4 linked regions of the Homo sapiens genome follow. The protein of the gene in region 1 purifies or fractionates together with the protein of each later gene. This does not show direct contact. Each region holds a gene or a part of one and is shown on either strand. Other genes may lie near its edges.

What was found.
Region 2: the proteins of SAXO5 (region 1) and TARBP1 purify together in Homo sapiens (affinity purification with mass spectrometry; one large-scale study listed by BioGRID and IntAct). This does not show direct contact.
Region 3: the proteins of SAXO5 (region 1) and WDR47 purify together in Homo sapiens (affinity purification with mass spectrometry; 2 studies listed by BioGRID and IntAct, with this or other methods). This does not show direct contact.
Region 4: the proteins of SAXO5 (region 1) and CADPS2 purify together in Homo sapiens (affinity purification with mass spectrometry; 2 studies listed by BioGRID and IntAct, with this or other methods). This does not show direct contact.

The regions. Positions count from the first base shown.
Region 1 is NC_000019.10:7,496,330-7,500,391, forward strand, and holds the start of SAXO5 (stabilizer of axonemal microtubules 5), read left to right. Parts: upstream 1-1,218; 5' UTR 1,219-1,353; intron 1,354-4,062.
Region 2 is NC_000001.11:234,427,143-234,430,722, reverse strand, and holds part of TARBP1 (tRNA (guanosine(18)-2'-O)-methyltransferase TARBP1), read left to right. Parts: intron 1-421; coding exon 422-636; intron 637-1,045; coding exon 1,046-1,307; intron 1,308-1,398; coding exon 1,399-1,587; intron 1,588-2,956; coding exon 2,957-3,147; intron 3,148-3,334; coding exon 3,335-3,406; intron 3,407-3,580.
Region 3 is NC_000001.11:109,014,537-109,018,116, reverse strand, and holds part of WDR47 (WD repeat-containing protein 47), read left to right. Parts: intron 1-515; coding exon 516-599; intron 600-3,580.
Region 4 is NC_000007.14:122,883,660-122,887,667, forward strand, and holds the start of CADPS2 (calcium-dependent secretion activator 2), read right to left. Parts: upstream 2,802-4,008; 5' UTR 2,679-2,801; coding exon 2,340-2,678; intron 1,787-2,339; exon of another isoform or gene 1,735-1,786; intron 1-1,734. UniProt on the Homo sapiens protein: Calcium-binding protein involved in exocytosis of vesicles filled with neurotransmitters and neuropeptides. Probably acts upstream of fusion in the biogenesis or maintenance of mature secretory vesicles.

The sequences.
Region 1 (4,062 bases):
GAGATTACAAATGTGAGCCACCATGCCTCACCTGTGTGTTGTTTTTATTTGTTTTTATCTGCTCATCTCAAAAAAGAAAGTAAAATTTCCAACCAATAAATTCATCCCACCCAAATCCCCTACTTCCTTAAGCTGTGCCCCCAAAACACCGAGCAGAATTGCAAATCCCATAATAAGTGCTTTCTGGCCGGGCGTGGTGGCTCACGCCTATAATCCCAGCACTTCGGGAGACTGAAGCGAGCGGATCACCCGAGGTCGGCAATTCGAAACCAGCCTGACCAACATGGAAAAACCCCATCTCTACTAAAAATACAAAATTAGCTGGGTGTGGTGGCACATGCCTATAATCCCAGCTACTCGGGAGCCTGAGGCAGGAGAATCACTTGAAGCCGGAGGTTGCGATGAGCTGAGATCGTGCCACTGCACCCCAGCCTGGGCAACAAGAGCGAAACTCCATCTCAAATAAATAAATAAATAAATAAATAGCGAAAAAAAGTTCTTTCTAACACCTCCCTACTGAGACCGCCATAGTGCCCTATGACATGTATGAGCTCTCTCTCCCTCTCTCTTTCTTTCTCTCTCTCTCTCTGATGAATAATAAGCTTGAATGTGTTCAATCACAGGTACATTCCTGGTGGTCTTTGACTGGGGAAGGAGGGGTGACCGGCCCCTTTAAAGGGAGATCTGTGAGCCCTAGAATAATATCAAGAGGTGCAGTGATTCAGGGAAGTGGGTCCATTCTGTGTGGGGTGTGTAGAAGGTAGAGGGACAGAAAAACTTTAGAGGATGATAATAATAATGGACACCAGCAGCCTATTTAATCAAATCCTCAATACTGACACTGCTTTCTGAACTGGCTACCATCATTAGTCCCCTTTTGCAGATGACAAAACCTAAGTCCTAGCCAGGCATGGTGGCACACACCTGTGGACCCACCCACTTGGGAGGCTGAGGCGAGAGGATCGCTTGAGCCCAGGACTTCAAGTCCAGCCTGGGCAACATAGCGAGAGCTTACCTCAAAAACAAAACCAACCGAACAAAACCCCAGAGGCTCCAAAAAGTCAATTACTTGCCTGGGTTCCTGGAGCTCTAAGGAGGCAGTATTCGCACCAAGCCTGCCTGCTAATTTTCCTCCCGGCTGCCCCTAGAGGTGCTGAGTGGTCATTGTGACAGTATCATTACACAAAGGAAGCTCTTGGGGTCACAATGCGCAGGGCTGGACCACCCTTGGATGCAGCCTGGGAAGGAACATGAGGATCCTCTGAGAGACCAGGGACAGAGGGAGACCCAAAGATCTGGTCTGTAGCTAAGTGAATTTTCTAAAACTCATTGATTCACACGCCATCCCTTGAGGTAGGTGCACTGTCCTCGTCCCTGATGTACAGAGGTGAAAACTGAGGCTCATGGGAGCTTAATGACTTATTCCAAGATTACCTGGCTAGTAGTCTCAGTTGTTGGATTCTCTGATGACCCATTTTGGAGGTCATATTCAACTCTCAACTATTGCAGGGGGCAAATGATTCAAAAAGCAGCAAACTCAGCCAGGCGCGGTGGCTCATGCCTGTAATCCCAGCATTTTGGGAGGCCGAGGAGGGTGGATCACCTGAGGCTAGGAGTTCGAGACCAGGCTGGCCAACATGGCGAAACCCCGTCTCTACTAAAAATACAAAAATTGGCCGGGCGTGGTGGCGGACACCTACAGTCCCAGCTACTCTGGAGGCTGAGGTGGGAGAATCGCTTGAATCCAGGAGGAAGAGGTTGCAGTGAGCTGAGAAAAAAAAAAAAGCAACAAACTTACACACTGAAAAACTGTGGTTTCATTAAAACACACACACACACATACACACACACACACACACACACACACACACCCTTCATCCATGTTTTCTTTCTATTTTTGTGATGGGGTTTCGCTCTGTCACCCAGGCTGGAGTGCGGTAGCGTGGTCTCGGATCACTGCAACCTCTGCCACCCAGGTTCAAGCGGTTCTCCCGCCTCAGCCTTCTGAGTAGCTGGGATGACAGGTGCATACTACCATGCCCAGCTAATTTTTGTATTTTTTTCTTTTTTTTTTTTTTTTTTTTGAGACAGAGTTTCGCTCTTGTTGCCCAGGCTGGAGTGCAATGGCGCAATCTTGGCTCACCACGACTTCTGCCTCCTGGGTTCAAGCTATTCTCCTGCCTCAGCCTCTGGAGTAGCTGGGATTACAGGCATGCGCCACCACGCCTGACTAATTTTGTATTTTTAGTAGAGATGGGGTTTCTCCATGTTGGTCAGGCTGGTCTTGAACTCCGACCTCAGGAGATCTGCCCACCTCGGCCTCCCAAAGTGCTGGGATTATAGGCCTGAGCCACTGCACCCGTCTGATCCATGTTTTCTAAATAGGTAGAGGTAAGCAGGTTTTGTGGGTTGAAGTGATCTGGGAGGTCTTCCTGCAAGAGGTGAGCCTGAGAACTTGGAATGCTGGTCTCCAAGGGAGACAGAGAGGAGAGCATGGGAGACACTTGTGATCTAAGCAAAGGCAAGAAAGTCCCAGGTGACTGAGCAGAGGCGGAGGGTCAGGGGAGGCTTGGAGTCTGAAGCTGAAGGTCAGAGGAGAGAGCTAACTCTCAGAAGGTGTGAAGACAGGAAGAGATTGAGAATAGGCAGGACCTAGGACAACTGCAGAGCAGGGGAAAACCAGTAAGAAAGTGCGTGGCAGGCCGGGCACAGTGGCTCACACCTGTCATCCCAGCACTTTGGGAGGCCAAGGCAGACAGATCACTTGAGGTCAGGAGTTCGAGACCAGCCTGACCAATGTGGTGAAACCCCGTCTCTACCAAAAATACAAAACTTAGACGGGCATGGTGGCAGGTACCTGTTATCCCAGCTACTTGGGAGGCTGAGGCAGGAGAGTCAGTTGAATCCAGGAGGTGGAGGTTGCAGTGAGCTGAGATCGTGCCACTGTACTCCAGCCTGGGGGACAGAGTGAGACTCTGTCACAAAAAGAAAAGGAAAGAAAGAAAGAGAGAGAAGGTAGGGAAGTGAAAGGAGCGGAGGGGAGGGGGGAGGGGCGGGGGAGGGGGAGAGAAGGGAGAAAAAGTGTGGCAGAAACGGAGATGGCCAGTGGCTGGGGTGCAGGGCTGGAGTTAGGCAGAGGAACAAAAATGGGTCCCCCAGAGGGGAAGAAGGAGAAAACCGTGGCCTTGACAACTGACTGAGGGTGAGAAGACGCGGTTCTTGTATCAGACATACAGTAGAATGCAGTGGTTAATTCTCCAAGTTCTAGAATCAGAGTCGCCCTGGGTTCAAATCTCAAGCAAATGACCACCTCCCTGAGCCTCAATGTCTTTTGTGAAGCAGTGGTTAAAACCTACCCTTGGCCAGGCATGGTGGCTAACACCTGTAATCCCAGCACTTTGGGAGGCTGAGGCAGAAGGGTTGCTTGAGCCCAGGAGTTTGAGACCAGCCTGAGCAACATAGCCAGACCCCTGTCTCTAAAAAAAAAAATAGAAAGAATTAGCCATGCATGGTGGTGCACACCTATAGTCCCAGATGCTCAGAAGACTGAGGTGAGAGGACCGTTTGAGCCCAAGAGGTTGAGCCCACCACACTTGTCTAATTTGTGTGTGTGTGTGTGTGTGTGTGTGTGTGTGTGGAGACGGGGTCCCACTATATTGCCCAGGCTGGTCCTGAACTCCCGGGCTCAAGCAGTCCTCTTGCTCTGACCTCTCACTGTGCCTGGATACAGGTGTGAGTCACAGTACCCAGCTATTACCTTCTAACCTACTCTTCAATTTTTGTTGTTATATTTTTTATTATTGTCTGTCATCTCCCGCCCCATTATCAATTCCACAAAGGCAGGGATCTAGGTCTATTTTGTGAACTAATGTTAGTTCCCCACCCCTGCTGGCCTCCAGGCCTAGAGTAGGGACAGAAATCATTTATGTGGTGCCTACTGTGTGCCAGGCCTACAGTAGGCACCACATGAAAGATTTTTTTTTATGTTTTGAGACGGAGTCTCGCTCTGTCGTCCAGGCTGGAGTGCAATGGCACAATCTCGGCTCACTGCAACCTCTGCCT
Region 2 (3,580 bases), on another chromosome or scaffold:
TTTTTAACATGTTTCAGCAGACAGTTAAAATAAGGCTCACCCATAGGAATGCTGCATGCAGATGTGTATGCGAGTAGGAGAAAGGTCAAGAAGGACTTACACACAGCTTTGGGTTCTGTACGTAGCGAATCTGTCATGTACTAGTTCCAGGTACCTGTTTACCAGATGAAAAGATCCCATTGTTGTCTTAATCTAAATTGCTGAGTTCTTATTGCTACTTTAAAATTGTTCACTGCCAATCTGTAGAGAAGTAGTGGAAGTGAATGATGTGTACTGGATTTCCTTTTATTTCTCCTGATATTCAGGAGCAGGCAGGAAGAGGGAAAAGGAGAGCTTGAGCTTTCCATAGACTGGCAACTGAGGTCATTACTGATTAAGACTTGTGCATATTAAATAAAACATTGTCACATTTCCTTTTCAGGAGCCAACAGTTGGAAGTCAGATTCAGAGAGTAGTGAGCATGGCTGCCTTGGCCATGGTGTGTGAGGCCATAGACCAGAAGCCTGAGCTGCAGCTGGACTCTCTCCATGCTGGGCCCCTGGAAAGCTTCCTTTCCTCTCTTCAGCTCAATCAGACGCTGCAGAAGCCCCACGCAGAGGAGCAGAGCAGTTATGCTCACCCCTTGGAGTGCAGCAGGTACAGGGAAGGTTAAGGCTTAAAAATCCATTTCTGTTGTTGTCACCGTGAGTTCATGATTGCCCAACATTGCTTATAAAGTTATAGAATTTTGGGGCTGAAGCTCCATTCAGGATGAAAGTGTGGTATAACATTATTCATCTCTGTTACTGGAGACTTGCTGACTTTTCTGCATCTAGTTTTCACTGAATCATTTCAGATGAGCAAAAGTACCTACTTTCAGAGAAGTTAGAAAATTAAGGTTTATGTGGTTTCCTTAGTTTTTGGTAGATAGGCTGTTTGATAATGACCATTTATATCTGTACACTGCCCCCCCCCCCCCACCTTTAGAAAGGATAGTGTGCTACGTGCAAAAGACGTGGAGGCAAATTGGGGAAGTATGGCCTAGTAACTTTATTTTTTATTTCAGTGTTTTGGAAGAATCGTCATCTTCCCAAGGATGGGGAAAAATAGTTGCACAATATATTCATGATCAATGGGTGTGCCTCTCTTTCCTGTTGAAAAAATATCACACCCTTATACCAACCACAGGGAGTGAAATTCTGGAACCGTTTCTACCTGCCGTTCAGATGCCAATAAGGACTTTGCAGTCTGCACTAGAAGCCCTCACAGTTCTTTCTTCTGATCAAGTTTTACCAGTGTTCCATTGCTTGAAAGTGTTGGTTCCCAAGGTAAGATAGAGTGAAACATGAATTGAACAGTAACTATAGGAGTGGCGATCAAGTTTTTGAAATAAGTATGTATTTTTTTTTTTCCTACCAGCTTCTGACTTCCTCTGAATCACTCTGCATAGAGTCTTTTGACATGGCGTGGAAAATTATATCTTCTTTAAGCAACACTCAGCTGATATTCTGGGCTAATTTAAAAGCTTTTGTTCAGTTTGTTTTTGATAACAAAGTTCTTACCATTGCTGCCAAAATCAAGGGCCAGGCATATTTCAAAATAAAAGAGGTAACTAACTTTCTTTTCTTTTTGCTTTTCTTTTCATGTGTGTGAGCTTCAGCACATGAGGAACATGAGAGTTGTATTCACAATTAGATTTTTGGCTCTTTATTCCTTCAGTCAAAAATATTTTTGAACCTTCTTAAATATCAAGAGTAAGAATGAGAAAATCTGACAGATGTAGAAGAGAAGGTACAAAACGGTAGCCTGGAGCCACATCTGCCTCAGAAACGGTTTGTTTGGTTCATACAGTGTTTAAAATTTTGATTACCTGGCAACTTTTAATTGTTGGGAAATCTGGCCAGGCGGGGTGGCTCATGCCTGTGATCCCACCACTTTGAGAGGCTGAGGCGGGCGGATCACGTGAGGTCAGGAGCTCGAGACAAGCCTGGCCAACGTGGCAAAACCCCGTCTTTACTAAAAATACAAAAATTAGCCAGGTGTGGTGGCGCACGCCTGTAATCCCAGCTACTCAGGAGGCTGAGGCAGGAGAATTGCTTGAACCCAGGAGGCGGTGGTTGCAGTGAGCTGACATCACGCCACTGCACTCCAGCCTGGGCAACAGAGCAAGACTCCATCTCAAAAAAAAAAAAAGTTGGGAAATCTGTATGAAAAACTGGATTTCTTGGAAATGAGGTAATCTAGCAACACTGGTCATTCTTCCATGACAATGTAATTGATCGCTCGGTTGAGTAGGAGTTGGCATGCTCTTTCCACAATCAGTCTCATTTCACCCGGATACTTGAAGGCAAATGTCAGGCGCCATTTGTCATTGCACTTTGGCTGAGGTTTTTTTTTGTGTGTGTAGAGAAATATTTTTCTGACTGTAACCCTTATCAAAAGGTCTTGCTGGTTTCTGGAGGTATTTTCATTTGCAGCTACTGAGATAGGAACATACCAAGGTGGAGTTCCAGTGTACCTCCTGATCCCCAGGGGAACAGGGAGAGTCAGATTCCGTTATTTCTCTGCAGCCCTGTGCTGCCTTTCTTGGTCCTTTTCTGCCCCACAGTACATAGTTAGAGACGCTGGTCTTTGCTGCCTCAGCCAAAGGAAGGCCACTGGCAAAATGCAAACAAAGGAAGCTGAATGTGTGTGGGGTGAGGTGTTTTTCCCCTTTGATTCTACTGCTTTGGCAGTTGTTTCTCTTGAAGAGTCCTGGATGAATATCACTATCAGTAAAATTTTATTTATTTTTATTATCAAGAGATGAAATAGCATTCTCTGATTATTGATCATCTCGCAAAGTTATTCTAACAGTAATGAATTTAACAGTTTTTAGACTGTTCATGATTATGTTGAAACTAAGTAACAGTTTTTAGCAGCACTGATTTTTTAAAAACTAAATCAAGGATAAAATGACGGTTGTATTTTATTCCAGATTATGTACAAGATAATTGAAATGTCTGCTATAAAGACTGGAGTCTTCAATACACTGATAAGTTACTGCTGTCAGTCTTGGATAGTGTCTGCTTCAAATGTGTCCCAAGGATCTTTATCAAGTGCTAAAAATTATAGCGAACTTATCCTTGAGGCTTGTATATTTGGAACTGTGTTTAGGCGTGATCAAAGGTAAAAGATGCTATTATTTCAACTGGTCATAACTTGTATTAAGTGCCTACTTGGGTATAGAATTATGTCTTTGTTTTGAGGCTTTCAATTAAAAGAATATAAATTATTAGTTAACTTTAACCTTGGGGATTTAATTTTTTTTCTATTTAAAACCTGTTGTTCTTTATCAAATGTTTTTTATGGAAAGACTTGTTCAGGATGTACAGACCTTCATAGAAAACCTTGGACATGACTGTGCGGCAAATATTGTTATGGAAAAGTAAGTATGGTAGATTTTCTCTGTCTTCACATAAATGAGATACTAAAAATTTAACATCATATGACAAACATTCTGTATTTGCTAAATTTAATAAGTGACATCTAATATATTAATAAGATGGGATGAGCCTTTAAAAGTATGTTAGAAATTATAGTCCCTTGCTAATACATTGTC
Region 3 (3,580 bases), on another chromosome or scaffold:
AGTGGTTGCAGATTCACAAATTCTTCTCATACAGTGTATGTTGTTACAAATAAGTTATGAAAAATTTAGGCCAGGTGAGGTGACTCACGCTTGTAATCCCAGCACTTTGAGAGGCTGAGGTGGGTGGATCACCTGAGGTCAGGAGCTTGAGACCAGCCTGGCCAACATGGTGAAACCCTGTATCTACTAAAAATAGAAAAGAATTAGTGGGGCTTAGTGGTGCGAGCCTATAGTCCCAGCTTCTCGGGTGTCTGAGGCAGGAGAATCGCTTGAACACAGGAGTCAGAGGGTGCAGTGAGCCGAGATTGTGCCATTGCACTCCAGCCTGGGCAACAGAGCGACACTCTGTCTCAAAAAAAAAAAAAATTATGAAAAATTTATTTGAGGAATCAAATAAAATGTTAATCTCATTGTGTGCTTTATGAAGTTTGAATGCTGTTTTGTCATCTGTTCTGCTTTTAATTAGTATAACCTGAATTTGGTGACATGCTGGTTTTTTTAAATTTTTTATTTAGGCAGCTAATACTTGATGGTCAATGGGATGAAGTTCTTCAGTTCATTCAGCCTCTAGAATGTATGGAAAAATTTGACAAAAAAAGGTAAGATTTTATCTAAAGTTTTTAGTGTCTCATCATTGGTAGAAGCTTAGCAAAACAATGAACAAAAATTTTCATTTTCATTTTTCTTTCTCCACTGGCCTTGAACAGAGAGTAAACAAATTGATCTCTCTCTGTCACCCAAGCTGGAGTGTGGTGGCATGATCACAGCTCACTGCAGCCTTGGTCTCCTGGGCTCAAGCAATCCTCCCACTTCAGCCTCTCAAGTAGCTGGGACTATACAGGCGTGTACCATCAGCCTAGCTAATTTTGTATTTTTTTTAGAGTTAGGGTTTCACCATGTTGCCCAGGCTTCCCTTGTGTTCATTTGGATTATTTTAAGTTGATTTAATGTTCACTGACCCTTTCTTTTGCTATTAGCAATCTGTTGATAAATTGTGAATTTTTAAAAACAGGTTCTTGTTCTACCACCAGGCTGATGTGCAGTGGCATGTATGTGGCACTGCAGCTTCAAATTCAACAGTGAATTTTTCATTTTGAATATTGTGCTTTTCATTTTCAAATTCGTATAATTTTTTTGTAAGATTTTTCCATCTGTTCATTCATTATGATTATATTTTTCTTTAGGTCCTTCAACATACTGAGAGTAGCTGCTTGTTTGCTAGTGTAGTCCTTGTTTGGTAATTTGGACTTGTGCTTGCTTATATCAGGCTCAGTTTCTAATGATTGCCTTTTCTCCTAACTGGGAGTCACTTTTTGTTTTTTTTTTTAACTATATCTAATTATTTTGTAAATGTAATCTGCACATTTCAGCTTCACTCTTGAGGCTCTGAATTCTGTTCTCTTCCTACATAAAAAGTTTGATTTTCATACAGGCAGTTATTTAACTTAGGTAGCCTCAAAATGCAAACTCTTTCTCCCCTCTTGTGGATACCAGAGATTTGTCCCGAAATCTCTGCTCAGTTCTTTGGCCTTTCATCTGTTTTCTCCAGGCTCCTTGGAGTCTCCCTTGCATCTTCACAGTTTAGGGGATAGCCAGGGATATGGGTACCTAAGTTTATACAGTAGATTTTGGTATGTTTCCTACTGTGACGTCGTCCTTTTTTTGGATCTTCCTCTCATTTTTTAGCTGCTCTGGCAGTACCAAACTTTTTTTTTGAGACAGGGTCTCATTCTGTTGCCCAGGCTGGAGTGCAGTGGTGTGAACACAGCTCACTGTAGCCTTACCTCCTGGGCTCAAGTGATTTGCCTGCTTCAGACTCCTGTGTGGCTGGGACTGCAGGCGTGTGCCACCCCGCTAGGCTAATTTTTAAATTTTTTGTAGAGACCAGGTCTGACTTTGTTGCCCAGGCTGGTCTCGAACTTCTGGGCTCAAATAATCCTCTTGCCTTGGCCTCTCAAAGTGCTAGGATTACAAGTATGAGCCACTTTGTTCAGTCAGTACCAGACTTTTCAAGCTACAGCCTTCTGTTTGAGTTCTAGCTCACACTGTGTGAACTGGGGAGTGCCCTCAGCTGGAAAGCCTTATGCTGTTGAATATAACCCCTTAAATTTCTGGGTTTTTTTTTTTTTTTTTTGAGATGGAGTCTCACTCTGTCACCCAGGCTGGAATGCAGTGGTGCGATCTTGGCTCACTGCAACCTCTGCTTCCCAGGTTCAAGCGATTCTCCTGCCTCAGCCTCCCGAGCAGCTGGGACTACAGGCATGCACCACTGTGCCTAGCTAATTTTTGTATTGTTAGAAATGGGGTTTCACCATGTTGGTCAGGCTGGTCTCGAGCTCCTGACCTCGTGATCCACCCACCTTGGCCTCCCAAAGTGCTGGGATTACAGGCTTGAGCCAACGCACCTGGCAAATTTCTCTTTTTTTAAGGATTGACTTCCCTCTAGTTGTGCCAGCTTTTCAAATGCATTCAAAATAGTCATTTTTTGAGGCCAGGCGTGGTGGCTCACGCCTGTAATCCCAGCACTTTGGGAGGCCGAGGCAGGCGGATCACTTGAGGTCAGGAGTTGGAGACCAGCCTGGCCAACATGGCGAAATCCTGTCTCTACTGAAAATACAAAAAAAAATTGGCTGGATGTGGTGGCACATGCCTGTAATCCCAGCTACTTGGGAGGCTGAGGTAGGAGAATCACTTGAAACTGGGAGGCAGGGGTTGCAGTGAGCCGAGATCGTGCCACTGCACTCCAGCCTGGGCGACAGAGCAGGACTCTGTCTCAATCAGTCAATCAATAAACAAACAAATAAATAAAATCACCTTTTTTTGGTATTTTATGTAAGATTTATTGTTGTTATATGCAGAAATGTTAGCCAGATATAAGTTACTCTATCACTATCAGAAGTTGAACCTGTTGTTATTTTTTGATTTGCTATTCAGACCATGCTGCTTGATATTTCTTTGCGTTTGTACATTCTTTACTTACCTGGAATATTAATCCCTTCACCATCTCCTGCCTTTACCTGGTACACTTCTGATTGTCTTCTGAGAGTCAGTTGTTATGTCTTTTTTTTGTTAACTTTCCACCTCTTTTGTACAATTGGTTTCATACTTTTTTGAGGCCTTGCTGAACTCTGAATATTTCATATAATTTATTAGGTGACCCTCTTTTTGAAGGCAGGGATTTTGTTTTATTGGACACAATTTGCTACTACAACAGTGGCTGAAAGAATGACTGAAGGTTCATTATTTTTTTCTTTCCAGACTTGGAAACACTTTTTCTATAAATTGCTTCAGGCAATAAAGCTTTTGATTCTTAGACAGGTTAGGTAGACTCTTTGCTATCCCTTCCCCTCTGAAAAACTCTTGTTAAAAAGCTTTAAATTGGGACCAGGTGCAGTGGCTCATACTTGTAATCCAAGCACTTTGGGAGGCTGAGGCAGGAGAATTGCTTGAAGCCAGGAATTTGAGATCAGTCTGAGCAACAAAGTGAGACCCGGTCTCTACAAAACAATTTTAAAAATTGGCCGGGTGCTGTGGCACACAGTTGTAGTCCTAGCTGCTTGGGAGGCTGAGGCAGGAGGAT
Region 4 (4,008 bases), on another chromosome or scaffold:
TGCTCCAGCTCCCTTTAGTAAGCAGCACATTTTTTAAAAGGTGGGGGAGGGTTGAGTAAAGTAAATACTTAGGCTATTTGGCATCCATCTTAATAAAAAATAAAAGTAATTCACAAAAGTTAACCTGTGCTCAATGCTCTAAGCATTTAGAATGTGGAAATTCCTAAGGATTCTATTTTTTTTCATAGAATATATGTTGTATTTTGCTTTTTTTGTAGTTTGAAATTATCTTTGGTAATGCCTGGATAAGGTTATAACAATAGTCTCCCCAGTAGTATTGTGAATGCACCTGCTTGCCAATTCAAATAATTTTGAACAAATATTTAAACAGAAGGAGTCAGAGAAAAATGCACTATTTGAACAGCTAAGGGAGGGTCCACTTCATTAACAAAATGCAACAAGTATTCACAGTATAAATCAACTCATAGTAAATTTGCAAAAGCATCTTCAAGGATAATATTCCAAGGAGAAAATAGTCTCTTAATTTTACCAAACATTATTTTTACACTTTAATCATTAAAAATAGGCTTAAATGCAATATGAATGGTAAAACTAGAGACTGGATGATATGAACTCATACCACAACATATACAAAAAATAGTTTTAACAATGACTATTGAAGCTGACAGTCGCTTGACTAGAATTGAGAAGAGGCCACGGGTGACTGCCTCAGAACAGACTCAATTAGAGCAGCTGATTAGGAAGTATGGGATTCATACAGGAGTGGAGCAGCAGGCTCATAAAAACACCGCGGGGCATTCAAAACTTACCTGAGTAATGGTGGTTTTAACTGTGCCAATTTGTTTGGGATTGGGAAATGCTATTATGACCTATTTCTCTTCTCCAACATGAGGAGTCTCCCTACCATTCTGTGACTGAATACCTAGGGTTAGGTTACCTGAAGGATCTGTTATTAATCTCCAGCTGTAAGGAAATATTCCATAAGGATTCCCAGAGAATAAATGATTCCAAAATAGTTGCTCAGTTTGTGTGTGTTTTAAAAAGTTGGGTAAGACCACTTAAAATTTTTTTCTAAGAGGATAGATCTTAAGCATACAATAGTGTTAACTATAGGTGTGTACTTATCCCCATGATACTTATACACCTATGAAACCACCAATAGTTAGGGTGGAGTGGTATGCACAGCTTTTTACATGTCAATTATACCTCAAAAAATAAAGGTTATCTAAATGGGGGTAGGAGAATGTAGGGAGACTGAATTTACTCTGAACTACAGTTATAGTTGAAGTCAACTCAAAACCTCTCCAAATTTCTAAAAATGCCTCACACACTGAAGTTAATATTTCAGAAAACTAATAAATGTCTGTGCATGTAGGTATGCCTTGAGCAGACTACAATCTCTCTGGATCTCTAGGTCTTGTCACAAACTGAGGGAACTGTTACCGATTTCTACAGAACCTTCCAGGTTCAGCATTCTATTAAAAAGATTTCCTAGAGTTTGTATTGTAAACATTTAACCACTTAGGACAATTTGAGTCATTACTCGTGTCTGGTACAGAACATCAGGCCCCTGGGGTCTTGTTTTGAAACTCAAGTTGGCCAGCCTTTCACCTGAAACAAACTTCTTACCTTTTGGGGGAGAATAAGCATTTTGTTCCCCAAAAAAGCATTTGGAAAGCATTTGTTATGAAGTGATCATGCACCAATCCTTTATCTTTCATCAGTAATAGTATATTTCATTAATCAGGCCTGCCCAGACCAGAAATTACTTACCCACAAACACTTTACAAAGCTGCATGCCTTCTCGGTGTTTGGATTTGATGTCCTGGTTGTATGACAATATAGGAAACGTATTAATTTAACTTTTTTATTCACTGAGGAAAATTTCTACCCCTCTTAAGTGAAGACTTCACTCTAGCTAAGAGAAGTACTCGGGCTCCACCTGTTTCGCCTAGCTACAACACTCATTCAGACCCTCGGCAAACCCAGCTCTAGCAATATCACGCCAGGCTAGGTGGACAGGAATGCACCAGTGCTGTTGGAAATTAAAGTTGATGGGAGTTGCATTCTAATCCGGCCAGAGCTGCGCCTGCCGGGTGCAACCGCGGCGCGGCCGGCGCTGTCGGTCTCTGTCTCACGGATGGTGAGCTGACAGCTCCTGCCAGCCCAGGCGGGGAGGAGGAGAAGAGGTGTCCGCTGCAGCCGCATACCCGGCGGGTGAAAGCACCGTCTTGTCCCCAAAGATTCCTCTGCCCTCAGAGACTAACAAAAATACGGTGTCCTGCGTTTCGCAGAAGGACGGGAGGCGTCCCAGAGCTCTCCCGGGAGAAAAACCCAGGGAGAAGTGGTGGTAGGAGGCGCCCGGTCCCGCAACTCACCTTCTGCTGCCTCCGGGCCATGTCGGTGGGCTGCTTGGCGTTGAAGGGGTACGCGATGCACCTCACGACGAAGACGTAGAGCTGCAGGCGGATCCTCCGCTCCTGCTCATCGTCCAGCTGCCGCTGGGGCTCGTCTCGCCCCTCGCTGAGCACAGAGGGGCTCGGGCTCACAGATCTGGCCGCGCCGCCGCCGCCCGCGCGCCCCGGCGCGTCCCGCCGCCCTTCCCGAGTCGGGGCTGGAGGAGCTCGCTGCGAGCTGCCGGCTGCCACCAGCACATCGCGGCTTTCCTCTTCCAGCCCCTCGTCCGACTCCTCTTCGCTGGAAGACGGGTCCAGCATGGTGCTCGGGGATCCCCGCCGCTCGGCCCGCGGTCCCCAAGCGCCTCACCCCCGGCGGCTGCGCCCGCGGGTCTGAGGGAGCCGCGGGGCTGGCTGCAGCGGCCGCAGAACGAAAGGAAAACTGGCCAGGGCTTTCCGGACACGTCGAGTTAGATTCAGGAGTGTTTCCTACCACCAGGGCGAAAGGGGCGGGCAGGAGCCGGGAGGAGGATTGGGAGGGGGGAGAGGGGGAGCCGCCGGGACTGAATAGGCGGAGTTAGCGTTGGGGGTGAGCTTGGGCGCCTCAGGAATTGCTCCGCCAGCCCCGGGCGCGCCGACCCAGCGGTTCCCCAGAGCCCGCCGGCAGAGGCGGAGCCGCCCGAGCGCCCGGACGCAGGTGGGGAACCTGTGGCGCCTACAACAAGCAACACGTGGAATTGAATGTTGAAGAGCCGCGCGGGGCCGCGGAGTGCGCGTGCGCGCGCCGCCGCTGCTGCCCGGGCCCGCCTGGAGCCCTAGCACACAGTTTGCAAAGGCGGGGAGCGGCCGAGCGCGATGGCCCGTGTAAGCGTCCACCGGGGCTGCTCCGACTACCCTCACCCTACCACCTGTGATCTTTTCTCCAGCAGGTGGAGGTGGAATGGGGAGCGGGGAGGGACTGTTCCCTAGCAAGAGGTTAGGGGGAGCGGCCGAGACATCTCCCCAACCCGAATCGGCTGCCTAGGATTGAACCCCAGCGCGGAAAAGCGGGACTGGAGCCCTTCACCACGAAGTATCTTTGCGACAAGACTTTGAAAAGTCTCACTCTGCTCTGCTGCCGTTTTGATACTCATGCTGAAGCCCAAATTATAAAAGTCGGAGTAATGAAAAAAAAAAGAAAACCAACGAGGCTTACTTTTTAAACTGTTCTAGTCCTGCAGACTCAAGGCAAGAGAGATTTTATATGTGCAAAATGATACTGATTCAGCTCAAACATATCTCGATTATTTTCTGGGTTGGGATGCAGTTGACTCAAAACAGGTTGTGTAGTGTGGACATTTATTCAACAAAGATTTGAGCGCCCTCCCGGTGTCCAGCACTGTTAGCCTTTTGCGGAGCCCGCGGTGACTAAGGCACATGACACTCAGTCGCTGGTGGTTCTGGCCTCAAGTCGGCGTCTTGTAGCTGCGCTGAAGCCTGCCTTATCTGCGCAGATTTCTCAGTCCTAGTGCTGGAACCACCTAGGAGTTTCTTATAGTAATTCTGTATCTTATGTCCTAAGTCCTGACAGAGGGGGAAATAGGCAAAACAATGCATTCAACACCAGGTGGAGTGTGCAGCGACCAGGTGGGCAGGGAGGTGATGAAGTTCA